Regions from separate parts of the Homo sapiens genome. Here all the other regions are linked to region 4. The links come from fine-mapping of genetic effects on gene expression. A gene starts in region 4. Each other region holds a variant in brackets. All regions are shown on one strand. Distances are between the middles of the regions.

Region 1 (6,210 bases), 330 kb before region 4:
GGCATCAAGTCTACTGAGTAAGGTATGTACTTGGGTCACTTTCTGCAAGGCCCAATGTACTTGTCTTATGAGTCTTGGACTTAATCGAAACTCTCTGCTCCCACTGCCTCCAGGAATGACACTGATTCTGCACCTTTGGCAGTGTGCACAATCGTGCATTCCTTGTCTGCACACTCTGATTACCGTGCCCTGTTATAGCTTACCATGCAACCGCTTTGTCACTCCTTCCCTTTAAATATCCAGGGTGTGGTAAGCAATGAAGCCTCATTGTGAGAATTTTTCCTTTCCAATTCTGATTGCTAGTTCCCAATCAGCAGCAGGATTTATTATTATACAATTATCACGATTTACTGATATGTAGGATTTATAGGAGGTCCTGTAGTAATTTAGAAATTTAGGGCTGGAGTTGCAGCACATGTTGAGCCCTTGGCTTCTCTGCATTTTGACTTCCTACTATTCCTTTCTGGAGACACTATCCCTGTTCCTTCTGACCTCCTTTCTACCTATTTGTCACTATTTCTCTACATTTCCCAAAATGAAATGTTACTCTCCCAGTGCTGAGTCTTGAAAGATAGAGAGGTCATGAAAAGTTAGGTGATCCTTGTGAGAAAGCAGGAGAGGGAGCAATGAGATATAGACACACAAGGACAAATGGCTGGAATTGGGAGGGGGGGGGGTGGCGGGGAAGAAAATATATAGAGCTAGAAATAGCCAAAAAGCTTTTTAAATTTTATCTAGGTCCCAGAAAAGCCATAAGATAGTAAATTAAGAAACAGGAATGGTGAATTGAGTTGTTAAATACTCCACTTCCCTCACCCCAGTTTAATTAGCATTTCCATATTCTCTGTGAACATCTAACCTTTCCATATACTCTCAGAATCTCACGTTTTAAATAGTATTCATGAATCGAATATCTACCTAAAGTAGATTCCAGGTCCAGATAGGCCTCACAAACTCCTTTAAAAAGTTTGTTCTTATTTAGAACCTGGGGGGAAACAAATGAATGTTCCATAATTCATTTGGCCAGGCTCTAAAGTCACTTCTTTTCAGAATTCCCTCAAATTCCTGAACTAGAATTTATTGCTCTGACGAACTTCTTCCTCCCACCAACCAACACATTGAAGTTTCTTTCCAGGCTTTTTGAGTGATTGCCCACAATTAGGAACAACCCAGCATACCCATTAGGTTGTCACTTCCTACCAGATGTTGTCCAGCTGTTCTCAATTTCTTTTTGCTAATGCTCTGCCATCTGCTACCTTAATGGTGGCACAATGGGGAAAGGCTGCTTTGGTGACTTTGCTCTTCAAGTTATAAAGACCTGGCCCATTGCCTCATCCTGGAAAGTCTGATATGCACATCTGTCACATTCCTCCAACTGGTTGTTGCATTTATTCCATCTACTAACTAGCCAATGTTAAACCGGTGTGACATGAAATATGTGAGCTCTCACTACCAAATCTAAACCTGCATCACTCTTCATTAATGGACACATTCACGTCTTATTTCCAGCTATCATAGGTTCTGCCATTAAGACAACAGCTAACATCTTCTTGTCCAATCAATACGATTCCCTTTTACCTTTCTTTATATATATATTTTTTTTAACCAGCATGCCAATAGCACATCAGTACAGTAAGCAGTTATGTGTCTTTTGTGTCACCTTGTCGGTTACACCTTATACATGGAAATCTTATGTTTGTTTGTTATTCTCTACAGCTGAATGAAGACAAATCTTAGCCCTCTGAGACTGATGGTAAGTTATCAGAGTCAAAGTCTGCCAAGGCACAGCAGTTATCAATGCAGATTTCCAGGGACTGTAAATCAGTGTGTAATCTATTTGTATATACTTATTGAGGAGATTATTGCTCCCTTCAATTATGGAAACTATTTTTCTGAAACCATCATTATGCTAGATGTCGAAAAGGTTAGTACCATTAGCTCATAATCCCTTCCAAAGGCCCAGTGGGAATGGTTGTTATTGGGACTTTGGCAAACATAAAAATAAGTTCAGGAAAACTGATATCCATACTAATTACAATGTACTTGTCTCCAGTAATCTATATTTTTAATTAATTATTTTAAGATTTGAGCTGTCACCACGTGATGACTCCATGTCTTATCTTCCGAAATAACACCAACCCTTGATGGCTCTCTTAGATGGACAGCTTGTTTAAAGTATTTGTGCTTATGGTCACAAGGCAGATCTGCTTGCAGTACAGTCAGAATACAAATCTAGGACCAAAAGAGGATGTTAACATCATCCCTGACAGCACAAACACATGTTCTTTGGTTTCATAACACTATTTTTACTTGAACAGGTAACTTCTTCCCCATTCCAGCTTAGATTTAACAGAAATTAATGAAAACGCCAATCTTTTATTTGAAAAGCAATAAGATCTCAAACAGCAGCTTCATGTTTTACTTGGAGCAGCCATGAATGTAGCAACAGCGGAATCATCGTGTGCTAAAAGTTCACTCATATCCACTTTAGTCAATAAATGTACTTACTGGTTTTACAGACATTTAAAGAGTGTCTTCAACTTACAAAACATGCTAGTGTCTTGTCAAATGTGCTTGTCTTTGTAAGTGATAAAGACAAGGTGCTTCTAGTTAGCAAAGGACACAAATTCTAACAACTAACTATAATACAAAACAGAATAATATAAAATAAATAAGAACAACAAACTGAAGCTCTGGTAGTTGGTTGAGAATTGGAAAATACTTAATGGAAGAAGTGGTGTTTTCACTGGGTCTTGGTGAGTAAACAGAATTTTGGCCAGT[A/G]AACAAGAAAGAAATATAGTTAGGCTTTTTTTTTTTTTTTAAAGAAGACTTTAAAAATGAACCTACCAAACTCCACTGTGCTTCATATAATCACTGATATTTTGCACCCCTAAGAGTGTTATTTAAGTTTTCAATGCAGTTAATTGAAACCCTACTAGATGCAAATCAAAAGTTTCAGCCTTAATTGAGATATTTTGAAAATTGAACCCATTGCTTCAGGCAGGTGCTACATGAGATTCCATTAATATAGGTAATTAACATTAGCCTCTGCTTTAATTAACATGCATACTTTAATTAGCAAAGCATTAACCAACATTAAAAAATCTGATCTTCATGCATCACAAAAAACTGCAAAGTTATGACTACTATGTTATTTTTCTCCAAGGTTGTAAATCACAAAACAGTGATCACTTCTGAAGTACACATCAAATTTAGAATATTAAACAGGGAGATATGTACAATATGAGTGAAAACATCATTAAAATAAAAAAGGATGCTCTTTAGAAATTATAGAGCCAACAGCTTTCACATTTTAAACAGGAGTTACATTGTAATCTCTCAATGATCATTTGCAAGGCAGGAGACTTTTGGCTTGAAAAATCCCCATAGACTGTCGTCTTCCTTATATGTAATAAATCAATCACTATATAGAGTAGCATTATCTATGTGACCATCTACCTCCTAACCTCTTCTTATCTTTCTCAGGGATCAAAGAAAGCACCAGTTTCTGAAGACATTTAATACCTGAGGTCTCAGACTAGCACAAACTTCATTTTTAAAACAATCTACGTTGCCTTGTTTTATGTTTAAGATCCAAATGTGCTAGACTAGTTCTTTATTGTCAATCTACCATGTGTGCGACCACCAACAATTAAGGATGACTTTTGTTAAATATAAAATTGGCATTCATGTTCTTTCCTTACTATGATAATTAGATGTGCCAACTTTCAAATCCTGCTCATATGCTGTATAGATTTTTTTTATTACTTTAATGAAAACAGCATCATCATTATATGGAATAGAAGTACTGTAGAAATGGTATCCATGTAGCAGATCATTGTATTCTTTTATCCCAAGACATGATAAAATTATGGTAAAAAAAAAAATGGTGAGCTTTTAAAAACATGTACACTCACAGAAAAAGTAATCATATCCTTCCTGATTAAGCATTAAGAAAAACAATCATAATACTGCAGATAGATCAAAATTAAAAACAACAAAGTCTCTAGTAAGCCCGTGCTGGATATAAGGCAATATTTAGACACAGAGAAATCTGAAAGACCATGACAAAAAGTGTCCTGGATCTCATGAGCTTTCGTTTAAATCTAAACTGAAAATCTCAAAAATTAGGTCCATTGTGGTAAATGTTGGTGTAATGAGAGAAAAAGAGCTAGGGAGCAGCACTCACAGATTTGTAGGCTCATTTGCTGCTTTAAGCTGTTACTAACATTGGAATTGCTTCCATTGACTCTACCGAGGGTTGCGCTTCTCTCTTCTTGTTCCTGCCACGGGTTATTTCATCACAGCCACTACAGGGTCAGCATGAGTCAGCATCTTCTCTGTACTCCTTTTCAACTAACAAATGGGGAAATGAATGTTTCTTGGGTTTGCAAAGCCATACCCCAAGTTACAGTGATTTTCTTGACCTTTTTCCCTATGTCAAATCAGAGCCAGGGCTCCCAGGAGATCATGCAGGATCTGGCCATTCTTCTGGATCTGCGCTGAGGGCAGTACCCTGTAAATAGGTGCAAGGACACCTCTCAGTTCTGTTTACGTGAATTTGTGGAGTCTTTATCAAATTCTTCCCCTATTCTATAAACTGTATTATGACAAAATTCCATATATTGGATTGCCATATGTCAGTACTATTTATGCTCTGCTAATTAAATTCAGTTGGGCTTTCACTCAGGAAAGGTATAAGCAGGATAAACAGAGAGAAGCATATTTACAGCCAGGGCTTTAAGAAGCATAGAACCCTGCTTTATAAACATGTGACAAACCCTCACGAACTTCCTTGTAGGTTTTAAGTTCATAGGGCCTTCCTTAGAGAAGTCCTTCAGAGATGTAGGAGTGGAACAATAGCATCAACTACTGAGCCATTTACTTAACTGGGTATAAACACAGGCATTTACTTAACTGTCAATAATATTTAAAACAATTGCCTATGAGCGAAAGATTGCTCTACACTAAACGTATGTATTCCCCTTCATTCTAGGTCTCAGAAAGTAGTCTTCAGATTACCAGCTTCAGAATCAGCTGGTGGGTTCACTAAAATGCAGATTCCCAGGCCCAGTGAGGACTGAATAAATCTTAGTTTCCCAGGTGAGTCAGTTTTGGCTGGCACTCCCAGGTGATGCTTATTCAGAGTAAATCTGGAGAACTGCTAAGAAGGAGAGAAACCACTGTCTTCTATTTCTCATACTACAGGCAGTGGTCATGAAAGTGAGCAAAATACTCTGTACCTAATCTCATAACTTCTTTGTAGATCACTGTGGGAGAAGAAAATAGGTTTTGTTGGGACACAGCTTTCATTAAATAGAGTCACCTTTGATAATTAACTAAATTTGATGGGCAGATAATAAAAGTCACATAAAACAGAAAGATTTATGTTTATGTTTAATATATCTTTATAGTCATACACGCTATAAATATTGCTTCATGAGTGCATTTTAAGCATGAGATTTTTCCAAACACATTTATTTAAAAAAATCCAAATTAGTTCTGTTGGTATTCTACTTTTAATACTTACTTTATCACTAGATGGCTAGATTTTTATTATGTTTCATGTCAACCAACTCTGACTTTCACTGAAATATCTAGACGAGAGATATTTATCTTGAGAAAAACAGATAGATTTATCTTAAGAGAGACAGATCTAACATACATTGACTTTCTTTAGATTTCTGATTATATTCTATAACATGATCACCATAAATCTGGGACAATATGGTCCATGCAACCTACCTAGACAAAAAAGTTAGATTGGTAAAAAACGCTTTCCCCAGTCTGACCCTAATCTCCTTTTAAAATTTTATCTCTCATTACTTTCTACATAACCATCTTCCCCAGGCAATTTGTCTATTTATCACCAGCTCCCAAATAGAAAGGCTTCCTGACCCTGAGTTTTTGCAAATATTTCTTCTGCATGAAACGCTTTCTCTAATCTGCTCTCTTACTTCGATGAAACCAAAAAGTCCTCTAAGGGCCAACACGAACAACTCTTTCATTTCCCCAATTCTATGTCTCTATTCATCCACTATGTATCACTGACCACCTTGCATTGGCAGAGATCTATCTGCTAGTCTTAGCTTCCCAACTAAATTATGAGCTTCTTAAAGTTAAGGACTTCCCAATATATTTAGGACCCTGCCTGACACATCAGAGTTACTTGAAAACTTGACCTCAACATTTAAAAAGATTTACTAAGAG
Region 2 (6,210 bases), 360 kb before region 4:
AACAAAGGTAAGGACAGGAAGTCAAAACAATGAATCTTTGAATAGCCAGCAATCATTAAAATTCAAAGGAGGATCACTATGGTTTTCAACAAAATAAATCATTAGAATAAGGAGCTTAAAAGGATTAATGTGATTCTCTATTGAAAGCCTGGTGAATAAGTAAAGCCCAGATTCTTCTAAAACACTGTGATCTGAAAATGAAAGTACAGAATGAAAAACTATGACTTTGTCCTTTACCCCTCAAAATCACCCCACTAAAAGAAATCCTACAGTCTTGTGAAATTGTAACTGAGCAAAACCCTATCAGTACTAATGAGGCAGCAGCCTCAGGTATGAATCTGAATTTTTCAGTTGAGTATTTTATTACTACCTGTTCTTGTCTCTGTACATTAAACGACTGCTTTCCGTGAAAATGAAAATCCACTTTTAATAACTTATAATTTAATCTTAATAGATCTGTCAAAAAACTTAAGGTGTGCCTGGTGATGGGGTGGGGGGGAATAGATCTAGGATTGCCTATTTTATTTTAATTACTTTATCATAACTATAAAGATCCTTGATTAGAACTATAAGCACCCAAGGGCAAGCATCAACATTGGCTAACATGTGGAGTTTATTAATAAATGTTTACTGGATGCCAATGACGGTTATAGTTGATGTAGTTAAAACCTTTAGTAAGGCTATGGTGGCCTAGAGCAGTGTTTCTGAAACTACAATGCACATACGGTGAAACTGATCATCTTGTTATGAAGATATTGATTCAGTAACTGTTCTAGGGTGGGGCTTGAGATTCTTCATTTCTAACAAGTGTTGGCAACACTGCTGGTCCATGGACCACGCTTTTTTTTGTTTTTTTTTTTGAGACGGAGTCTCACTCTGTTATCCAGGCTGAAGTGCAGTGGCACAATCTCTGCCTACTGCAAGCTCCGCCTCCCGGGTTCACACCATTCTCCTGCCTCAGCCTCCCGAGTAGCTGGGACTACAGGCGCCCACCACCACGCTCGGCTAATTTTTTGTATTTTTGGTGGAGAAGGGGTTTCACCTTGTTAGCCAGGATGGTGTCGATCTCCTGACCTCATGATCCGCCCACCTCGGCCTCCCAAAGTGCTGGGATTACAGGCATGAGCCACCGCGCCTGGCCCCATGGACCACACTTTCTGAGTAGCAAAGACCTCCAGCATATATGTGAAATCTGAACTAGTATCCCATTTCGAAAGACTAAAACAAAACAAAACCCGACCACTATAAAAGAGACAAATAAAAAATAAACCATCTGGTTTTCTTTATTGACTCTGTGACTAATAAGGAATAACTAATAAACATTTCCTTGAGAGGTATAACCATTTAGAAATACTTCCTGAATTACAGTCCCTATTTCTCTCTCCTTGCACCCTCCTATATTTTAATCATACAGACAGAAAAAGTGGAATGCCACCCACAAAATTAGAAGAGTATCTGATTCAAGGGATTATTAAAGCAAAGGGGAAAGGAAGAGAAAGCTCACCCTTTCCACGTCAGAGGATTTGGAGAATAAAAAATAAGGCAGGAGGAGCAGGTGCTCAGATGTGTGTTCTCCTCTCTCCTGGCCTAAGACCTAGAAAGGAGGCATGTGAGACAGGTTGAGAAAAAAGCCCAAAGCATAAGGATGTCAACTTCATTTCCAGGTCAGAACTCTGCGAGGAAATTGCCTCATATATTGTCCCCACAATAACCTGGAGTGGGGATGTTGTAGACAGAGAGAGATCTTCGGTTAGAATTCTCTTTGCTCTGTTGTTCTCTCATTCTCCCAAGAAGAGACTCCAGGGTTCTTGAGAGGTCAGCTGGTGAACTTGACAGAGGCATTGCCATGACAACAAAGGCACAATGACGGCCTCTCCCCAACAAAAGGAGAGCCAGGTGGGCCTCTCAATCCAGACCACAGAGAGTTGGCAGGGTCAGTGAGGGCTGAGTTGAGGCTTAGTCAGCAAGAAATACCACCGGTCCCTGACCAAGCCAAGAGGTAACAACATAAGCTAGACCAGCTACAGCCCTCTGTGGGAGGAAGCCTCATAATATCCTTGACAAGACCCATTTCAATAAGCCCAGCCAGACTGTACCTAAGCACTGTGTTAAGCCAGGGGACTCCACTGCACCCCAGAATTACAAGATCATGTAAATCCCTATATGCTCAGATGTCATCTTGGAGAAAAGAATGGAGACAAATAGAAAATCTGAAAAACAGAGTATTGATCCCAAGAGAGTATTTCCTAAAGAGAATGTTAATTTATTAGAGAGGCTATAATGTGTCTAAGAGCCTGAACTCTGATCTTAAAGCAAGTATTTTTCTTGCTTTTCTAGGAAAGTGTGAGTGTAGGGTGCCTCATAAAAATGATCAATTGGCAAGACAAAAGAAAGAAGCTTGTTTCTTTTTCATACATGTGCACCACTGAAAAAGAAATTTTGATTATGACTAAGAAATTCAAGGGCAAGAGATAAATTTATTATCTTTGCATCCTCAGTGTCCAGCATAGTCCCTGGTGAATGATGATAAATGAATCTAGATAAAGAAAACAAAAACCTTCAGTGGGGCAAGAATGACTTCAGAAAAGCAGCATGTGTCAGCAGACACAACAGTATCTCATCGCCAAAGACCAATACCAATACAACCAGTGCAACATGAACAGGCTGCTTTACTCATTCTTTACGTGAGATTTTGTTTTTACTATATTAAAATGGTAAATTCACTTACTTAAAATGATTATATGTAGTAGATGTTAAATCAATGTTAATTGCCTTCCCCTTCCTTTCACCTCCTCCTCTTTTTATAGTGAAAGATAAAGGTTTATGAACATGAAAATTATTAATGAATAGTTTTCAAATAAATTAAAAAATATATAAAATAATAAAATGTTCTGAAGCATGGGAATTTTTTCACTGGCTTTTTAGCATGCATTTATATCTATTGAACTGTTTCCTTCTATTATTCTCCTTATCATGGGCCTTCGAACAAAAGTCACTTAAGACTTTTTCTCAAACAGTCTACACTGGAGACCTGCAAGTAGCAAATGAACCTAATACAGATACTCACCCTTTATCCAGTCTAGTTTGTTTTCATCCTAGCTGAGAATATTTAGACTTGATACTTGATTTGTTAGATACAGTAAATGCCTTGGTACCACATTTTGTTTCATTGGTACCCAATGAGCACCAATGTGCTAAACAACAAATTCTCACAAAGTCTCAAAACAGAAGACAAAAACTTTTTTCTTAAAAGTATTTGTGCCTGATTTCAGATTCTTGGCCATGTGTTAATCCACAA[G/A]TTGGAAAAGACCTGAGATTTTTCCACATTTAGTGAAATCAAACATATAACAGTGGCAAATCAAAGCCAGGCACAGTGGCTCACACCTGTAATCCCAGCACTTTGGGAGGCCCAGGCAGATAGATCACCTGAGGTCAGGAGTTTGAGACTAGCCTGGCCAACATGGTGAAACCCCGTCTCTATTAAAAATACAAAAATCAGCCAGGCATGGTGGCACATGCTTGTAGACCCAGCTACTTGGGAGGCTGAGGCAGGTGAATTGCTTGAACCCAGGAGGCAAAGGTTGCAGTGAGCTGAGGTCATGGCATTGTACTCCAGCCTGGGCGACACAGCAAGACTCTGTCTCAAAAAAAAACAGTGGCAAATCAGAAATAAATTATTGAATTTCTTTGTAGGTGCTTTTGAAAGATTCTGAAATGACCACAATTTAATGTCCCCAGTATTATAGGAAACTTCTTAAGTAAGGAAAGAGTTCACTTTCTTACATTTATATTAGCTGCAAAGGTGTGTTTTTTGAGTGATTTTATAAAAGACAATGTGCTCCAGGAAAAGCTCCAGCTACTCTGCAGGAAAACAGAGAAGATCATGAACAAATGAATTTATCAAGGGTAGGGGAGAACTAGTTAACAGTTCTATATTCCCTTGGAGAATATGCTGATTCTATCAGCTGAATTCAGAACCAGGATCTTCTCTTGAATTTCTCATGACAACTGCTCTCATCTCTCTCTTTTGAAGGGAGAGAGGTGATTAAAATTGTGGTGAGTAGCTTATAATCTTATAGGAATACAAATATAAGAACTATGAGTCCCTTTTGGAGGGACTTTCCTCATAAAATTTTCTTTGTAATTATGCTTGGGTTTATGTCAATGCATTCACTCTCATTTGTGAGCTCCTAGATGTTAAAAGGCCTGTTAGGATACCATTGTAATACTCTATGAATATGTTACATTTTCTATGAAAGTGTTATAAAGCAAACTCATATATACTCTATGAAAGTGTTATAAAGCAAACATTTAACCAAAATGTATTCTTTTTGATATTTCTTATTTAACTTGCCATACACTTGATCTTAAATGGGTTCACAATAAAGGAGTTGGACATTCTGATGTAGGTAGCTTAATCATGTTATGGGGAGAAAAAGTCTTCTAACTTGAAGTCAGTTTTTCTTAGACAAATATAGAACTATAAATGTATTTGTTTTATAGTTTAAGCATCTAAACAGACAAGGCTATAGAGAAATAGATGTGCGAAATTTTTCTTTAGTGTTTATTTTTAAGTTTGGGTTGAAGCACTATGGGTAATTGCTCTAAGTATTTCATAACATCTTACCCACCATTTTACTTTGCCTTATTTAAGGTTAAAAAAGATTCCAGGGCTTTTATAAATAAAAAAATACTAACAACCTTATTTAGTATCATTTTTCTGCAGATTTGATGGTAATATATTACTTGTGAGGCCAGCATAGTTTAAGAAATAATCCTTCCTCTAAACCCTGATGGGAGTTATATTTGACTAGCTAAGTGTTTGAATACATAAATGCATTCAGCCTTTGGTATTTAAAGTGAGCATCATTAACTCAACATTTCAACTTAAACTTTGCTTAAACGATAAAGTTTCACCCAAGTGAAATCAATGGGAGGTGTGTGTGTGTGAATATATGAGGTTTCAACTGGGCTCACTAAGGAATTTTGATGAAAACAGACAACCAAATTAAGAAATCATCAAAATAGAGCAATTATTGGTTGAAAAAAATATATAACACTAAAAGTCCTCACAGGTTTTCTACTTAAGGCTGAGTAATCGTGTGTGTGTGTGTGTGTGTGTGTGTGTGTGTGTGTGTGTGTGTATTTTGGGGCACTTAAGAATACATCTTTTGTATGCTTAATATTAATTCACACTAGGACATCTAAAAACACCAGACTGGTTCCTGAAATACCACCTGTCTATATTGGGAGTTCTATTAAATGATCCAATTTTCCTAGCTTCTTTAGCATATTGATTCCTTCCCCAAATATTCACTAAGTGTTCGCTGTTCACATTATTTGCCTAGGAAAGTTTGCCTCTGGCTTTCAAAAAAGACACGTAAAGGAGTGGTAACAAAATCTTGCAAAAATATAGTTTAAGTATTTTACTGAAGTAAAATACTAATAATAGATCAGAATTTCCCATCATCCTCTACTCCATGTGTCATATAAGCACAGAAGGGAGATATAATAGTGGTGCCTGTTATATCTCCAACCATAATATCATCAAAGAATAAAATGTAGCTTTCCAGACATGGAATCTGATATGCACAGTTGCATGTACAATCCCTTTCCACTCTAAACATATGAAAGTGTGGACACTAATTTACTATTTTGAATGAAAATTCATGAGCAACTTCCTCATGAGAAAAGCAGCCTGCCTTTGCCATTAATAAATAAAAGGAATATGGAGTTCTTTCTAGCAGTAATTTCCTCAGTTTTTATATATACCTACGTACATGTGAACAGGTCTAAGAAAAATAAAATCAAGCCTACAAACTTGTTAATAACTGGCCCCACTTTCTCGTGGACCATCTGTCCACCAACACCTATTATTGAAATAAAAAGCATAAAGCACCAAGATAATCCATTAAAAATTCTAACCAACGAGATAATCTATAACATTAGAAACATCAGTGTAGATTTCTGGGTGTATTTAGAGGATTCTGTTACACTATCAGGAAGTCAAAGGCTCATCCAAATTTTTAGATAATATGCTGGACTAAGTTCTAGCCAGGGAAACAGAAAACATTCTGAAGAATTTTTAAATCAGTAGTTGGAAGAACAAATGGAAAAATGTACTTCAAAAGACAAAGAGATGATTTTTTTAAAAGATAAACCGTCCTATGTTATCATTTGTGTGTTAAGAGGGGAATGGATCCAAACCTA
Region 3 (6,210 bases), 390 kb before region 4:
GCACTCAGCACAACTACTTAATTTAGAATTTTCTAATAACACAAAATAAGATGAAAAGGAAAAGAAAAATCTTTGATTCTAGCTGTTCTCCAAACATAACAAAAGAAAACACTTACCTAATATGTGCTATAAGAAATCCAATAACAAGTTAAGTGTAGTAAATTAAAGTCCACTGAAGAATTACCATTATGCAAACTTCAAACACAACAGTCACATTCTTCTATCTTCCATGACCTCTTGTGTGGACAGACTACTATTTGCCTAAAACTTGATTGACCATCTATCTCCTAAGTTAACTATGATAATGAAATGAGATAAAGCAATGATATGCATATTTACATCTCTAAGCTACTAAAACCATAAATATTCACTTGCCTTTAGTCTAGGTGCTAAAATATACCCAAATATCTATAAAAACATAAATGTTATTTGCCTTGTAAATTTGAAGAATAAACTTTAAAAGATGGTGGCTATGTCTTCTTTAGTTGACCACAGAGTATCTTGAATATTTGAGACCCTCAGAAAGCCTTGAGTCAGTGAATAGTTTCTCAAACTAAGTGATGTATGAATTGCTGTTTGTTGTTTTAATATACAATCAAAGGAGAATTTATGTATCATAGGTTACCACATATCTTTATAGCTGAATTATAGGCCTGTTCAGTGCAAGTATTTATAATGAAAATGCTGAAGAAGCCTGAACTATGGATGTGTATGGTTGTGCAGCAGCAGCAGCCATTTCAAATATAGATTTATTTTTAGCATTAGGAGGCACCAAGTTTGTTTAAATCTGGACTTTTTTTTTTCTACAATTGCAAGTAATGTTAATAGCACACTGTAAATGTGAAGGCTAAGTGTGCAATGTCAAAATAGACTGGATCTCTCTGAAAATTGGAAATTCAGGCTTTTCAAACATAATCCAGATGTTTGGCTTTTATTCAGATTTCAAGAAAGAGGGAACTAATATGATATAAAATTCATACATGCATATTTCATTAGTGCCTTTTGTATCACTGAATTAAACATTCTGAAACGTGCTTTTCCCAAATCACATAGAGTTTTAAACCAAAGCAGTTGCCAAGATGCTCCACACCTCAAAAATAATGCCAAATTAATTTCATAAGGAAGAAACTATATATTTCTTATGTTAACTCTGTTGATATTTCCTCAAAGAGATATCTTGCTTTCTCTCTGAGGATAAGAAGAAAAATGAGAAGTAGAACACTGTAACCATTGTAGTTTATCAAAAAGGTGTTGCTGCAGAACATGGTGACTTTTGAAATCTATGAGAATCAGTTGCCTAAATAAAGGCTGAATGTATTATCGCCCTTACTGTCATCATCAAAAAACTATCTTTTCAAGTTTCATGCAAATGGGCATTCCCCAAGGACTAAGGACTCCAGCACTGAGAGGCTGCACCCAGAATTTACCATGCGATGGTAGGTGTTAAGACAGAGCTGATCAAAGCATTTCCAGGGTTGCCTGTTCCCAAAACACAATGCAAGTGCCATTATACCTTTATGTATTCACATTGTGACTTTTTTTTTGGCAGAGTATTTTTAATTTTCAAAGGGTTTTCACATCTATAATCTTAACAGATCCATAATGCTATGGAGTTTTTCTTGGTGACTGCTCAAATCCCTGTATAGTGAAAATATCTGATTTCTTATGCTACTTTTTAAGAATATCTCTGGTGCCTTCACTTCAGATGAGGATAAGTATGGTTTCAGAATTAGATTATAAGCTTCTACAAGGGACTGTAGGAGGTCAGAGACCACATGTCATTCACTCTTTACCCACTGTAATTCTTAGCATTATGGTTTAAATGTAGGAGGTTGTTGGAAAATATTTATTCATTTGAATTTCTCCCAAAAGAAAGTCCAGGCAGATATAGAGAGCTGTTGAAATATATGCCAGATACAGTGTTAGTACACAGAAATGAGTACAGTGTGATTGCTTTATCTTTGAGCTTCATTTTCTGTGAAAAACTTATTTGGTGAAACATCCAATACAGGAATATTATTCTCAATTTTCAGACAGAAACCATGAACAAAGTTAATTGTTTATCATGGCCATGAACGGTTAACACAAGAAAAGCTTCTGTGAAAACCTATCAAAGAAAAGAGGAAGGTGGCAGTAGTTCTTTGAATATTTTAAGGGCACCTTTTATGAGGCAGTGTTTTCTCATAGCAAGAACATTTGATCAGAATGCGAAAGGCTAAGTCTAATTTTTAGTTCCGATACCAGTATGCTACAGGCTTAAAAACCATTCTGTTCTACCCATCCCCTGACCCCTTGGGCCTTTTTGTTTCTTTTGGGTACCTACCCATATTTGTCAGAAAAATATTTTGACAAAATAAATTTTAGAGATTTTAGGCTTTAAGGCTTAAACGCTGCTGCTGCAGCCTCAGAAAGCTTGACTGTCATTTCAATGGATTGTTCTTTTTTTTGCTGTTCTCCTATGGCAAGCCCATGGGGAAAGTTAGTAATATTACTTCTGTCTTACAGATAAAAAATTGATACATAGAAGCTAAGTGACTTGCCCAAGGTCAGTAAGATTGTACTAAAATCCACAAATAGAATTTCAGGAGGAATTTCAGCTTAGCTTGGTAAGCCATACTACTGCTCTTGAAAATACATCTTTAGATCTCAGTCCAGAAGTCTGAAGAAATTGGTGGGCCCTAAGAGTATAATGTAAATAAAGTCAAGAATGCCATACAAAGTGACAATGGAGTGGCCAACACATACTTAAGAACCCTACTCTTGAACCTCTTTAGCCAGATTCATTTGGCGTAGGCTCATCCTCAAAAACCCAACAGATTTTTAATAGCCTGAGGTTGAGGCTAAAAGGGCAGATAGGAGAGTTCTCACTGATGGTCATGCCTGTCACTCAGAAGAATGACAGTTCACAGTTTAAAGAAGCTCTAGGGTACAAGTGGAAATTTGTTGGTATAAACTAAGACCATAGAGAACAAACCTTGGTTATAACTGCTTTTGAGCACTTTTTCAGCTATGTAAAGGAGTCTGCTATAAATATTCAAAGAAGTTTCTCTTACATCGAAGAGAAACAGAATGTGTGTGTGTGTGTGTGTGTGTGTGTGATAAGAGACAAGAGTGATAAAAGTAAAGAGGAGGAAGAAGTGAAAATTTGGAGAATGTAATGATGGAGATGCATAGATGCATGGAGAGAAAGTTAATAAGTAAATAGGGGAAGTTACAAAGGTTTCACCAGATAGGAAAAACAATTCCTAGTCTACAGGGAATAAATCCTAAAAACTACATAAAAATAAACAGCATTGCAGAAAA[G/A]GAAGCAAATTACAGCTGGAGAAAAGGTCTTAGTGAATGGCTTCCCTGAAATAAACAGATGACAGAATATGATGTTGATGACTTAAACATTTTGCATAAAGGCTGAAAAAAATTCATTAAGAGGATATTAGAACCAAAAGAAGCAGAAGTACAAGGATGTGGCCATTTAGCACAGCTTATAGCCACAACAAGGGATAACTTTTCAAGAAGATGTGAGTACCAAAACATGTGATTTTTGAGAATTTTCCCTAAGCACCTTCACTGGGCACCATCAATCCTGCAACTGTTACTTCTGCCTTTGTTCTCTTGGTGGCTTGCCACCTGATCCACCTGATCCACCTGCTCCAGGGAAGGTCATTTCATATTTCCATGGTCATCCCATCTGCAAAACAGGGACAAAGCTATCTTTGCCACTTGTCTAACACAGGTATTTTAAGAGGTAAATAGATCATACTTGTAAGAAATTTTAGATCCCGATATAAAATACACCATTAATAAGAAGTCTTTGATTTTAACACAGATGAGTTTTGTAATAAGATTTTTTGGTTTGCTACCGATGTGAAAGCAAGACTGCAAATTTCCCATGGTTTTTATTTTCTGTCTTAGAAATAATGTATTGTAACTATTGTTATTAGAGATTGGCCATATTAGAGAGTAAAAGAAATCACACATCAGGGTGAAGTCATTAGAAAGGTAAATACAGATAGATAGATAGATAGATAGATAGATAGATAGATAATGTATACCATATAATATATAATTAATATACATTATATAATGTAGATAATATATAATTATATATATTATGTATTTTCTAAAAGACAGGAATATATACATATTTAGAGAGAGTACATAGTATATAGTATATATGTAGTATATACTAAATACATAGTGTATACTATAGCATATACTAAATACATAGTGTATACTATAGTATATACTAAATGTAATTGTGGTTTTTGCCATTAAAAGCAATGGCAAAATCCCAATTACTTTTGCACCAGCCTAATAGGATATAGTACGTAATACATACAGTGCATATATATATACAGTGACAAAGTTTTACTATTTTTCTTGACTCTTAATGAAGGGAGGAGGGAGCTTGTTGATATTACCTATTAATACTACTTCTTAAAACCTATACATATGTAACCATTTAATCGCTCATGAGTGATTAAACATAAACATGGTGACAGAAACCATGCCAAACATTTTAATTTGTAAATCAATGAGATAAAAGGCTATTGATTAAGAAAATTAAAAAAATTAAATATATGCCTGGAATCAGACTGCCCATATTTAAACTTTGCTTGCATTGCTTACTAGCTGTGTGCTTCCCTGTGCCTTAGTTGCTCATTTGAGAATACTGTTAATACTTCATTAGGTTGCTGTGAGGATTGGATAAGCCAGTATCTGCAAAGATCCTAGAACAATTTCTGTTACATAGTAAAGACCATATACAAATGTTTGTTCAAAATTTTCTTAGCATGCAGAGTTGCATGCTAAGAAAATATGATCTCTGGCATAACTTTTCTCATCTCTTTTATGCCACTAATTCCTTATTTGTATATATAACTTCTCTTCACTATATGAAACATTGAATCTAGGAATTCACTAGAATTTTAAAAAAAAATCTTTCCTTTTATTGACTTTCACTGAACACATGGGATAAAAGCTATATGGTTTGTCACTGATTTTCCTCTTCTCCAGTTTGTCTTCCTGTTTTTGGTAAAATCCTAGGAACATGCCAAGCTATTTCCTAGATCTGAGGTTTTTTTCCCCCTAAAATGCATTATTTTGCAATGCATCTATCTCTATTCCAGTTATTTAAATTCTATCCAGTAAGGTTCAGTTCAAATATCATTTATTCCATGAGGACTTTCTAAGAAGACTAGCACTTATTTTTCATACCACATAAATTTGCTATCTTTGCTATTATTTCATGTTTTTTCGTTTTGCTTTTCTAAGTAGATTATAAATTACTTAAGGAAAAGGATAACCTCCCTTTATTTGGTTCTCCACAGCACACCATAGTATCCTAATGAATTCTTATTGTCTCATCCTCACAGTCACTAAAATGAGATAACATCATTCCTTATTCCTTTTAAGTAAAAGTAAAATAATTAGACCATTAATTCCTGATATATGTATTAGATGGACATATGTAATTTTCAAAATATATGTGATAAAATAAGAGAATTCAGGTGAAAAATGTCTTTGTGCTTAAACACACAGAAAGTGATGCAAACTTCATAAATTGTTAGTTGAATTTGACGCCAATTAGTACAGTTTGCAAGGTAGAAAAATTTGTAATCATTTTTTCCTCAAGCAAATATGAATCTGCCTTCGACCATATAGCTCTCCAGAGAAGCCTCCCCAGTAGGGAATTTGAAATTAGAGTGATTGCCTGTCACTAGGTCTCCCAGGGTGTAGACTTCGAATTCAAACGTGAGTCTGTTCTTTACCAAAATGCCTTAGGGACTATTCAGGTCCTTTCCTCATAGACAGCTAAATGTCTTTAGTCATATTTGCCATGACATCCAATGTGACAATTCAAATACTGTATAAACTACCAATGTGTGTACCACAATACAAGCAGAAGGTAAGAAAAGGTTGCTCATATATTATGAAATGACTTAGTTTCAATGGAAATGTAAGTGAATATATCTGTTCCATGCTGTGAAAAAAACTGAGGGGCATTTGGTAATTCTGCCTAAAGAAGAAGGTAGAAAAATTAAAATGTGTGGAAAATAAGACGTCAAAGAGAAAGCTGAATTTCCATTACAGGCAGCAAAAGACACTGCAGAGAATCCAATGGAAGTTATCTGCCACTGAAAAAAAGTAAAAGGAAAAGGAAAGTGTCTAAGAAGTTTCATAAAATATATATTTATGTTTTTATGGTCTGAA
Region 4 (6,210 bases):
GTTGCAAATGACATTTCATTCTACATATGAAATCTGATTTTCCAATTAGAATGAGGAGGGGTGGGGTACGTGTGATAGAGTATAGATGACTGATCTGTATGGTATATACAGTAAAGATGTCATAAAACTGAGATGGCCGTGGGTAAGCATGTGTGCTGCATAGCCAGATCGCAATGGTTTGGAATCCTGGCCCAATCACTTATTAACTACATAACCTTAGCCAAGTTTATTCGCCTGGCTAAGGACTGGTTTTTGCAAAATGTGAATAATAACACCTAATCCTATAAAGTGAGATTATTACTCTCTACTTCATAATAATAATAAGGGCTAAATAAGATATACACAAAACTTAATTCAGTACTGATACACAGTAAGAACTGAATAAATGATAGCTATGATTGTTATTATGATTATTATTTTTATCATCCCTATGCGGCCTAGTTATCGGCAAAGAATTAACTTCTTTGTAACTTTGTAATGTATTTGTGAAAGCCATGACCAAAAGTATAGAGGACATTAACTTCTTGTGAGGCTTCCATGGCCTAAACTCTGTCCAATAAACATGGTCTTGATGATCTATCATTACTGTGAAACAAAATTCCTTAAACTGTAGAAAGTTTCAGTGAGGCACCAATAAATACAGCCATAGAGAAATCTCTCCCTTCCCCTATACACACACACACACCATCTACCCCTTGGGGATATATTAAAACTAAGACAACTGAAATAGCCTTAGCCAGTAATTAAGACATGCAGCTAATCAGAGAGCAGCGCAGGCTGTGGCCCTCTACAAAGAAACGAAGAAACAAAACATTAGGATGATAGCTCTCATTACCAGGGCTTTGTTCTCCTGGAGCAAAAAGAGCACAAAAGCATAAAGTTGGAGAACTGTAATTGCATTTTGAACATTTGCGGGGGGAAAAATTACAGGGTTGTCTGAACCGGGAGGATGTTCCACTAGATAACTGCGTCAGTCCACACCCACCAGCGCCCTTCCCCACCCTCAAAGCATGACTCCACTTTTTCTAACACTGCCCTTAAGGAATCTAGCTTTTGTGACTTCCAGTAATTGAACAAATCAACCATGATGAAGCAGCTGAAGAGCACTTTAAACAAAAGAGACAAGAATTAAGCAAACAGAAAACTCATTACAATGCTGCCTTTTGCTTTTTTTTACTCCTAGAAATTCATGTTACCAAACAAGTCTTTCTTCATTGCTCTTCTTCAGAAATAATACTTTAAGAAAATTCTAAAAGGCACTAAGTGATTTTATCCAGATTTATAATCTAGCTACAAGACATACTTTCCCTTCCCCCATCACCATCTAGCACTCTTCCCTGTCACCTTAGAGCTTTCGACTTAGATGTGTTCACACCCAGCAGTCCCAGCAGAGCTTTCTGCTCACATTATATGACATAAAAAAGCAGGCAATGAACAATTCATGCTTCTAAGTGCTTGCGATAAAGCCAGGCTGAGCTGACCTCTCCCATCCTATACAGCTGCATGTCAGAAACATAAGCTTAAAGGACTGAGAGTAGCAAGCATGTGCGTGATGTGGTATAAACAAACAAATTAAAACCTGAGGCCTTTCCTCTGGCTGGTGCCTAATGGGACTAGCATACTTAACTCTGTGCAAAAAAAAAAAAAAAAAAAAAAAAAAAAAATCACTCCAAGCTAGCTAAAGGTATTGCTTTTCCTGCTTTCCATGATATATCTCTTTAGCCCCAATAAACAGACTAAAAGAAGAGGAATTCAATGGTTGCCATTCTTTCGTGTAAGACTTTTTGAGTAAAAACTATCAATTTGGCAGCATTAAGCCACAAGACCACTCCCTGATTCTAAGTGGACATATTGATCAATTGAACTGACATGTGCCTCCTCCTTTCTCTCCCCTAGTAGCAATCAGCTGTACCAGGGAAATCCATTTCATTTCCCAAAACAAAAGGCAACATTCTGCTCCTTATCTGACACTGTCAGACTAATTTTTTAGAAAATAATAATAATAATAAAGATGCCTAAAAACAGAGCTAGGAGTTGAAATGAAAATGATACGTGTTTAGAGTTTTGGAATTGAGTTGAGGTTATGACTGAGTCCAGAGGTCTGTAATCCCTACAACCACTGAGGACCCTGATATTTATTCATCATACCCAGATTTTTGTTAAAGTTAAGCAAGGGATGGCAACACCACTGCCACTTCAGAGGCTCTCCCAGGGTTACCCTTCACTGCAACTGCCGCAGAGAGGAGACTTGTTCCTTTCTCAGTTACAAGTCAGCCTGCAAACAACTCCAGCTATTTCAGAGACTAGCTAGAGATGGAAAAATATGTGGCAGTCTTTCAACTAACTCTGAAGGACATGGGTTGAAGAACTACCATATAGATCAAAAGGCTCAAATAATTTCATTTGGTTTAGGTTTTTATGCTTTTAATAAATTCTGTCTTGAATATGCAAGAGATCCCCTTTCACATCAGGGTTATGTCAAATGCTTATTCAGCATTTGTTCCTTGCCATGAAGAAACTGAAACCCAACCGAGGTAAATAATGAATTTCATACTGCAAATCACTGAATATTTCATAATTCACAAGAGCAAAGAGGGGGCCAATTAGCTCTGCCTCCCAAAAAGAAATCTATATTTTTACAATGCTTAAATACTGTTAACTACTCATTTTAAAGCTTATCTGGGGTTTTGCAATTGAAAAATCATCTTATGTTTATGAAAAATTCTGTAAGAACACTTAAAAATAACAGACAGAGCTGGAGCAAGAATAATTCTACATATTTTAATTCCTATATGACTCTTACAGGCCTTTGTCTTAACCCGGCAGCCTGAAAAACGATTTAGGTAAAACAGCCCTTCTTTCCCCAGTCCATTTTAAGCAGAGACAACATCCCCCAATCTCCGCCTTAGCAGACACCGACTAACCAACAAAACAGCCGTGCAATTAAGGCCCAGACATTTAACACTCACCATCTCCTGATCCCACCGTCTTCTTTTGATGTTTACAGCACATCTGTAGGATGCAATACTAGGAGATGCCTTGTTTGACCTGCTGCATGATGCTGTGACATCAGTTCAGATGATGCAGCTCATTATGGGAAAGACTGCTGTTGCTATGGCAACTGGGATGTGCTAGGAATCCTTGCTGCATTTCCAGTGGAGCCTGAGACAATACGGAAGCCCTGTAAGAAACAGACGATATGCAAAATTTAGACCAAAGGAAGAGGATTCCTCATTGGACTAAAATCCATAGGTTTAAAAGGGATTTCCCTGAAAGCATTTTGGAAAAAACAAAAATTATCTCCCCCTTTGTTGTTATACATTTAGAAAAAAAAGGTGGGAGGAGAAAATAGAATTAGTACTAAGCAAATAAAAACTGAAATGTACAATGTTTCCTTATTAGACAATTTGATCACTTTTTCCTCCCTGGTCAGCACTGGGATAGCTTTTTAAAAGTTATTAAAAAGAATTTTTGCTCATCTGTCAAAGACCAAAAGAACAAAACAGCGAGCACAAAAATAATTAAAAATGGAATATAAACAGCTGACCAAATGACTCTAACTCTCAAGTAAACAAGTTTTAATTCTCAAAACATGGGCAAACCCTTGGCCAATGAAGTCTGTCCTGGTTATTTTCCCTGATGAACACCAACCCACAGAACCTTCCCATGCAGAATAAACCCAGCTTTCACCTGGTCATCAGATAGGCAGCAAAGGGAAGTTTGGAATCTAGAGGGGCACAACACACCACCCTCAACTTCTACTGACCCTTCCTTTGGCCTGCAGGGAACCCCTCCTTCTCATGGCCAAAACGCATGTGAGTCTTTTCTGGGATCAAACCTAGTGGTTGGAACAAGTAGCAGACCTGCTAGAAACTTCCTAAATCGTTGGCATTCCAAACATTGGGGTCTGTTTTCTTCTTTTCTGAACAATAAAACTGCCTACCACACAGATTATTTGTGCCCCTCCCCAACCCCAAAAGCTGGAACTGTGTGAAAAGCCACATTTAAACAAGACACGGTAAGGCATTTCTCCAGTTGGTAAAAGAAAAGCAAATCTAAAGCAATCACTTCTTTCCAGTCCTGAGCAGAAATCAACGTCATGTGGTGAGAACTGGGGAGAAGGAGATATGGACAGAGCAGCCTATGTTTTGCATATTTAATATTTGCAGGCCATTGATAGAGAAAAGCAGAATCAAGTTGACCTGTATCCACTCCGTCTTCACAACTCTGAAAAAGAACAACATTCCAAAAGCTTAAAACATGAGACAATTATGTTGTCTCCTCCTGCTTGAGATTTTAAAATGGCACTGTTAACCACCAGCATAGGCGGTGTGGGATGAGTGGCAGAAGGAATTCAGGCAGTGTCTCTGTAAACAGGAGCTAATAAAATGCCTGAGAAGTGCCAATATCCCAGCAGCGTGCACCATCAGCCTCGCACAGAGCAACCCTGCCCTAGATGGGAAGACAGACTTGTTCTTGCTTCATCTAGAGAGGAATTAAGAGACCAAAAGCAGGAGGTGAATCTGCCTGCTTAGGTCCTTTGTGGCATCAGCAGAGCCTGACTCCCTCCCTTTATCTTAGACCTCAGACCACATGCCACACACAAGGGGAGAAGTAGCAGGCAGCTACCCCAGTACAAAGAGTACAGATCTGAGAGTCAGGAAACCCAACTGTAAATGTCAGGTCCTCCTAGAGCATCTGTGTGATATCAGGCCAATTGATTAACTTCTTGGGGCCTCAAGTTTTTCATCTGCAGAGATGATTGATTTAGCTAATAACCATAGTTTTCAGGTTTTTCATTAGTAATATAACCTTTCTTTTAATGATACAGATCAAAGCTGGACTGCCTTGGTTGAGGCAAGATAAGAAGCCCAGAGCCCAGACTGATGAGCCATTCTCAACCACTGCCTCCAACCTCATTTGCTGTAAGCTGACTCTTTAAGATACCTCTGAAGAACCCTTCAGTCTCTGGAGAAGATAAAGAGACATGGACCTATTACAGAACAAGATTAGTCTTTCCAGAGCTGAAATCCACATGCTATAAAGAGGAGAGGACAGGGTGGGAGCAGGTGTTCCAGATTTGAATATGGCTTCTCAAGATGGTAAGAATCTTGTTAATCTTTTTTGCCAGAAGCAAGTCAATCATTTGATGGGAAGAAATGGATGGCTCATCAAACCTGAGGCCAGGTCAAACTTTTAGCAACCTGGACTAGCTAAATTGCTTGCCCACAAAATGGCACTCACCAATGAAACGGAAGTAGAAGTGGAAACCATCAACTCCAAAGGTGGCTAAGACCAAGTGTCTCTTCTTCATGTTTTCCTGTCCTGCTAGCTGGATGCAAAGAATCCAGTGGAACTCTGAAGCCCAGAAAGATAATGGCCACACATTGTGGATGGAGCCTGGGTCCCTGAATGACTGCATGGAGCTCAACCATCCTCTCCCAACTACCTATTGACCTACACTGGGCTGCAATGAGTGAGAAACAAACACCACCAAGATTTTGGGGTAGTTTATTCTGAACAAATTATCCATTTATAGATAAAATTATAATTTAATAAAATATAAATTTTCTAACAAGATTATATTATATATCATTATTTATGATAAAGTGACAGTGTTAAAAACATGTTCCTTTATTGCAGACTTTCTTTTTTTATTTTATATTACTTTAAGTCCTGGGATACATGTGCAGAACATGCAGGTTTGTTACATAGGTATACATGTGCCATGGTGGTTTGCTGCACCTATCAACCCATCATCTAGGCTGTAAGCCCTGCATGAATTCGCTATTTGTCCTAATGCTCTCCCTCACCTTGCCCACAACCCCCCGAAGGGCCCTGGTGTATGGTGTTCCCCTCCCTGTGTCCATGTGGTCTCATTGTTCAAATCCCATTTATGAGTGATAACATGCAGTGTTTGATTTCCTGTTCCTGTGTTAGTCTGATGAGAATGATGGCTTCCAGCTTCATTCTTTTTTATGGCTGCATAGTATTCCATGGTGTACATGTGCAACATTTTCTTTATCCAGACTATCATCGATGGGCATTTGGGTTGGTTCCAAGTCTTTGCTATTGTAAATAGTGCTGCAATAAACATACATGTGCATGTGTCTTTATAGTAGAATGATTTATAATCCTTTGGGTATATACCCAGTAATGGGATTGCTAGGTCAAATACTATTTCTGGTTCTAGATCCTTGAGGAATCGCC
Region 5 (6,210 bases), 100 kb after region 4:
AGGTGAGGAAGGTGGACCTTTCCCTCTGTCTTTAAATTCTCTATTCCCCAAGTATGCCTCTCTGTGTTTGCCTTCTAGCTCTCTGGCTACTCACAGTTAGGTTTATTTTGTACCTCCCTTTCTGCCAAGACAATAAATGTTGGTATTTCCTTGAAAAAATGCATCTACTCCCATATCTATTCCCATATCTACATCATAAACTCCCAAATTTGTACTTCAATTGATAGCTCTCTTCAGAACTTCAGGTCCATTCATCCAACTGCCACCTACACATCTCTAGGATGTCCCACAAGCTCCTCAAACTCCAACTGTAGAAAACTGAACCCACTGTTTTCTCTACCACCTTTCCTCACCCATTTCTTTCTATGGTCCCTGTCTTATTGATGGCACCACACTCCATCACTGCCCAAATCAAAGACCTGGGAATCATGCTTCACCCTTTGCTCCTCCTCACCCAAACTTCCTCACATCCTGCCAATTCCCTCTCTTGAATCCATCTACTTTTCTCCACTCACTAGCCTAGTTCAGGCCAAAATCCTCATTTCCCCAAATTGCAATAACAGCGCCCTTACCTGTCTTCCAATCCATTCTTTACATTAAGCCCAGTAATCTTTATAACATATATATCTTAGCATGTCACACCCCTTGCTAAAAACCCTTCTGTTACTCCGCTCTGTTTTAGGGTGAAGCCCAAATGCCTTCACCAACTGAAGAGACCTGTACAAGTTGGCTTTCAGGCTGGGTGTGGTTGCTCATGCCTGTAATCCCAACACTTTGGGAGGCCGAGGTGGGCGGATGGCTTGAGGTCAGGAGTTCGAGACCAGCCTGGCCATCATGGTGAAACCCCATCTCTACTAAAAATTAAAAAAAATTAGCAGCCAGGCACGGTGGCTCACGCCTGTAATCCCAGCACTTTGGGAGGCCAAGGCAGGCAGATCACAAGGTCAGGAGTTCAAGATCAGCCTGACCAACATGGTGAAACCCCATCTCTATTAAAAATACAAAAAAATTAGCCGGGCATGGTGGCATATGTCTGTAATCCCAGCCACTCAGGAGGCTGATGCAGGAGAATCGCTTGAACCCGGGAGGCGGAGGTTGCACTGAGCCAAGATCACACCACTGCACTCCAGCCTGGGCAACAAAGTGAGACTCCATCTCAAAAAAAAAAAAAAAAAAATTAGCTGGGCATGGTGGTGCACGCCTGTGGTCCCAGCTACTCAGGAAGCTGAAGCAGTAGAATTGCTTGAACTCAGGAGGTAGAGGTTGCAGTGAGCCACGATTGTGCCACTGCACTCCAGCCTGGGCAACAGAGTAAGACTCCATCTCAAATAATAATAATAATAAGTTGGCTTTCATATACCTCTCCAGCCTCATCTCTCATCAGAATTCCTTCACATTCCATGTTTCAGCCACACTGAATCTCTTTCCTATTCTCAAACCTGCTGCCTCCTGGCCTTGCTAGAATCACAGAATTGTAGAGAGGAAAGCGACTGAAAGATACCAGAATCAGAACTCTCCACCAACTTGCTTCTTACCTTCAGAAAACTCAATCCAGTTTATTATTTATTGAGTGTCCACCAAGGGTAAAACACTATCTTAGTAGCTGCAAAGAAACTTAATGAGTAGGTCCATGTCTAAAGAGTATGCAATCTCATTGCTTTTCTTAAACTTGAGTTTAAAAGTTCAAGTTCCTGAAATTTAGCTCCCTTCCTCAAACCTAAGTTCAAGTTACACTAGGAAACGACCTGTCCTTGACTAAACTGGCTTGAGCCTATATACAGTTTTACCAGAATAAAACTTCCCTGTCAATCCAGAGCCCACATATCTCCTCGCAATCTGTATACTTCAAGAGAGCCTTCCAACATAGCCTCACCTGGCTGTTTAAGCTTACATTAAAAACTCTCTAGGTTTCTGTTGGCTTTCTCAGCTGTTGCTGAAAGCACTACAATTGGCATCAATCACCAGGGATTCTCAGGAACTAGAAACTCTGCATTTAGTAGGTATATTTTGTTTGGTATCAGTCAGGGCTGAATAAGAATTTTTTTTTTTTTTTGAGACGGGGTCTCCCTGTCACCCAGGCTGGAGTGCAGTGGCTTGATTTCTGCTCACTGCAACCTCCGCCTCCCGGGTTCAAGCGATTCTCCTGCCTCAGCCTCCTGAGTAGCTGGGATTACAGGCACGTGCCACCATGCCTGGCTAATTTTTTTTTTGTTGTTTTTAATAGTGACGAGGTTTCAGCATGTTGGTCAGGCTGGTCTTGAACTCCTGACCTCGTGATCTGCCCGCCTTGGCCTCCCAAAGTTCTGGGATTACAGGTGTGAGCCACTGCGTCTGGCCAGGATTTTTAAGTGTAAAATTATGAGGCCCCAAAAAGGGCGTGGAGGCAAGAGCCATCCAGAAGAAATTTAATAGCCAGCATTCCTGAATTGCTCCTCATGACAGAACAAAATGATGGAGCTAGGCAAAGACCACCTATCTGGAATCAAAGGGCTGTATTCTGTGTCTTTGCTGATTCGGGAATGTGCCTTGATAATGGAGACAAAGATCTTGGTGGTAGTTTTCCTTCTTCTTGGTAGGCTTAATATTACTACCGTTGAAAAAAGGCAACCACTCTGGGCAAATAACAAAAAGTCTCCCCTTCCTCCTGACTGACTGAGGGAAGGGGCACATACTTGGGTGACTAGAGATGGGCTTTGTGCAGGGACACTGCATGTCCATGCAGACTTGGTCCTTTATGACACCTCTTTGCCCACCAAATTCATGGCTTTCACTACATAAATACATGAAATACTATCTCAAGTTTCTTAACACCCAGACCTAAAAAAGAGGGAGTTGACTTTCCAAATAGAGAAAGTGGCTATAATACATTTTTGCATATATCTTATGTACTTGGAAACTCATTTGAAGTTCCCTAATGCTGCACTATCTTCATTTGTTCATAATGGCCCATCTCTCACCATCTCCATCAGTGAAGCAGAAATTTGTATTGCTCTCAAACACAACACAAATAGAATTCCCAGCAACCGGAGTTTTATCCAGAAACAGTAATGAAACATAATAATCCCAAGCTGACAAGAAGCCCAATGACTATTAATAGAGAGAAACAATATGAAAGTGTCAAATAGGGTAGAAAGCAAGCTACAGCTGGGTTGAAACACTAACTTATTAGGAATAGAATGTAGAATCAAGTGGCAAATTGTCCTACGTCTTATTTTCTTTGCTTTTTGTTAGTCCTGATTGATCCCCATCCAGTTCACGATGGGACACATACTAGCCTAATTTGATTTGGGAGCCAACAACCCAGGTTGTCAGATGCTCCTGTTAAGGCAGGTCCCAGGCCCCAGTTTGGCTGAGTGTTCCTGGGTCTAAGATACCTTTCCTACCATCCATTGCAAAGTGGGGTTGTGTGTATATATTAGCAACAGCAGTAAGCATGACAGTGAAAAGATTAGATGTGGCACCAATTCCATGTTTTACCTGCATCTTTAGAGGACTGAAGATTCTGCTCCGAGGGTAACAGAAAAACCCCACAGAACTGCACATGGAGTGACTTTCATATTTTCCAGACTTTCTGGCAAGGCCTTATTGCTCAAAGGACATTTGAGTGGTTAACACTCAAGTGGTTATA[C/T]TGCATTCCATCTAAGAACCTTTCAGTGAGTCTTTCAGTATAAGGAAGCATCAAATAAAGGAACTACTGATTTACAGACCAAAGATATGTACTGAGTTTAGAAACATTCAATTATCTTATCTGTGGAAAACAATGTACTTAGCACCAGCATGAGGAAGAGCTTTAAAGATGACAGAGACACAAGAACACTCCCCTCAAGGAACCTTACAAAGGAAAGAAACAGGCATTAACACCAATAGAAAACAAGAGAGGAAGAGAGTCCAGATGTCAGGGGCTGTGATTGCTGAAAGAGAACCAAATTTGGAACTTGCCATATCATCAACACCTTTTATGTATTTTTCATTCCTCTAGAGTAAAACCTTATCTCTTCTTACCTGTCAAGAAGAGAAACTACAATAAACAGAAATATGTGCCTTGGGGAAGATTTGTCTGTACTCTTTTGCTATTCCCTGGACAGAGACCTGGAGGCCTATTTTCAAATTAAGTTGGTTATGATGTGTGTGAATGATACGGTTAGTAAGACAAACTAGGCAATAGATCAAAAAGATAAGAAAGACCCACTAAGGCAAGACTGTGATCCACCTGCCAGCAGTTACCTGAGTTCTATAGCAGGGCTAGGAAGGACATATACCTATTGATCCAAGAAAATGGCACCATAACTGCATGCCCCAAGGCTCTGTCAGTATTTAAACCCTGGGGAGACAGTAATTGTGGTCCTGGCAGGAAAGCCTGTGAAACCAACTGCAGAGCTTCCCAGTATACTAGATTTGAAAATAAGAGGCTTTGCTGATAAGACAAGTGGAGCATTGAAAGTAACTTGGGATACTGAAAATCCTCTGCCAGACTCAATTCAGCTTGATTGTAATTGTTGACTCCAGGCCTATCTCTGAAAGACATCAAACACAAAAAGAAAAAAAAAAATCTGAGAAAAAAAACACAGCTTATTCCATTTGGGGGACAGAAATTGAGACATGTAACAGATGGAATGGGGAAGGGCAAAGGGCTTAATAAGATTCACTACAGGATTAGGCTTTCGTTTGATTAAAACCAGCCTATGCAGGGCAGAGGCAGAACAAAATCACACGGCTCTGACTCATCATGCTTCAGCGTGTGCAGCCACCACCAGGGGGGCAAGACCAGGTGGAAGCCATATATGCACAAGCCCTGCTAAGCAGAATCATAACTGGTGGACTCGGCTCTGAAGGTTTTGCCTTACTTTTCCATGTTATGAAAGTCTAGGCTGAAGAAAGAATAGCTCATATGGTACTAACATAGAAGCTGTCGGCTTTACATTCTCAGTGCCTAATGCAGTGGCAGATGCATCTGTGCTTGAATAACTGTTTTTGAATGAGCAAAGGCCTAACCTCTCAGTTATGTCCATGAGGTCCGGGAGGATGTATAGGTATAGTCTGTGACTAAATGTTCTGATCTGACAGTCCCATAACTTTGTAGCAGCATAATCAGTAATGCCCCCTTTCATGTGCAAAAGTGTGTCAGTTTTCAACTTACCAAAGACCTCTCCCAAAAATTAGTGATAATAAAGAGAAGGAAGAAAAGAGAAAACCTATCTTTCTACAAATAAATAAATGAAAAAATAGCTTGAGTAAGGTCTACATGTGGGTAAGGAGATAGAGTTTCAGCTCTGTGAATTTTTCTTACTATCAGAAAAAAAATATTGACTTATGTGCTTGCTTTTTTAAGCAAGCAGTCTGATTTACTCCTGGGACTTATATCTATTTCCATTTATTTAGATTACCGTTTACACCAGCAGGATTCAAGAACAATTCTATTTTGTTCAAGACAAATCATCGTTCACTCTGGGAAGCCCAAAGACATCATAAAAATAAAGAGATGTAGCAGGAAAAAGGAATGTTAATAAGAACTGGATCCACTAATGGGTTGGGATATTTATGTTTTTTACCTTTTATATTTTACATAAATTTTTTTCAACCTTTCTCTCAGACCACGAATAGGAGTTTATTATCTGGTGTGTAAACCACTTGTGAGCTTCTGGTATGACTGCTAACAAGAAAATAATATTTTCTTTCTTAAGAAAACAAAGCACAAGACTCATTTGGCCATATCAAATGCAGGACTGAACTAGAAACCTTGAAAAAATAAACGCAATTTCACATAGTATGGCATAAAGTTAGACTCTGAAGATATGGTTTGGAATTCTACTCTGTCTATTCCCAAGTGGCCTTGGACAAATCTCTTGGAGCCTCAGTTTCTCATCTGCACAATTAGGGAGTTGTTTGCTAAAGCTCCATCCATCACTGAAGCTCTATGAGTCTCTGACTTGATCATTTGGTCAGTAAGAACTAATTTCTCCCATCAGCCTTTTAGAGAAGATGGTTCGCTCCCATTCCCTATGCCCACATGCTACTAGTCATCTTCTAACACTCTGAAAAATAGCCCATGGAGGGGCATGGAGGCTCATAACTGTAATCCCAGCACTTTGGGAGGCTGAGGCAGGCAGATGGCTTAAGCCTAGGAGTTTGAGACCAGCCTGGGCAACATGGCAAAACCCTGGCTCTACAAAAAATACAAAAATCAGCCAGGCATGGTGGTATGTGTCTGTA

Direction of the effects. Positions count from the first base shown, and alleles are read on the strand shown. Sizes are in standard deviations (SD) of each study's normalised expression. Not every link is listed here.
For the expression in fibroblasts of the gene that starts at base 3,080 in region 4, allele G in region 1 goes with a higher level than allele A (small effect, 0.18 SD a copy in GTEx).
With allele G in place of A in region 3, the expression in testis of the gene that starts at base 3,080 in region 4 is higher (small effect, 0.30 SD a copy in GTEx).

Evidence for each region. PIP is the estimated chance that this variant, and not a neighbour inherited with it, causes the effect. A credible set is the group of variants that fine-mapping cannot tell apart.
Region 1: its variant is the best candidate, but not a certain one, in a credible set for the expression of AKAP6 in fibroblasts (GTEx, PIP 0.72).
Region 2: its variant is the best candidate, but not a certain one, in a credible set for the expression of AKAP6 in testis (GTEx, PIP 0.67).
Region 3: its variant is the best candidate, but not a certain one, in a credible set for the expression of AKAP6 in testis (GTEx, PIP 0.71).
Region 5: its variant is the best candidate, but not a certain one, in a credible set for the expression of AKAP6 in thyroid (GTEx, PIP 0.73).

Annotation. Positions count from the first base shown.
Region 1 is chr14:32,655,392-32,661,601 of GRCh38, reverse strand. All of the region lies in intron 7 of AKAP6 (A-kinase anchoring protein 6), which reads right to left. It overlaps LOC124903298 (a long non-coding RNA gene), which reads left to right and starts at 1,097. Exons shown (of 3, transcript XR_007064109.1): 1 at 1,097-1,185; 2 at 1,717-1,753; 3 at 4,997-5,085. RefSeq lists an enhancer at 4,225-4,294. The variant A/G (reference allele first, on the strand shown) is at 2,782.
Region 2 is chr14:32,689,011-32,695,220 of GRCh38, reverse strand. The region is part of intron 8 of AKAP6 (A-kinase anchoring protein 6); the gene reads right to left. Among named protein-coding and RNA genes, the nearest start is that of NPAS3, 250 kb to the left of the region's middle. The variant G/A (reference allele first, on the strand shown) is at 3,299.
Region 3 is chr14:32,714,497-32,720,706 of GRCh38, reverse strand. The region is part of intron 9 of AKAP6 (A-kinase anchoring protein 6); the gene reads right to left. Among named protein-coding and RNA genes, the nearest start is that of NPAS3, 220 kb to the left of the region's middle. The variant G/A (reference allele first, on the strand shown) is at 3,304.
Region 4 is chr14:32,326,168-32,332,377 of GRCh38, reverse strand. AKAP6 (A-kinase anchoring protein 6) reads right to left here and starts at 3,080. Exons shown (of 14, transcript NM_004274.5): 1 at 2,970-3,080. RefSeq lists an enhancer at 821-1,115.
Region 5 is chr14:32,223,697-32,229,906 of GRCh38, reverse strand. No RefSeq gene overlaps it. Among named protein-coding and RNA genes, the nearest start is that of RNU6-8, 24 kb to the right of the region's middle. The variant C/T (reference allele first, on the strand shown) is at 3,629.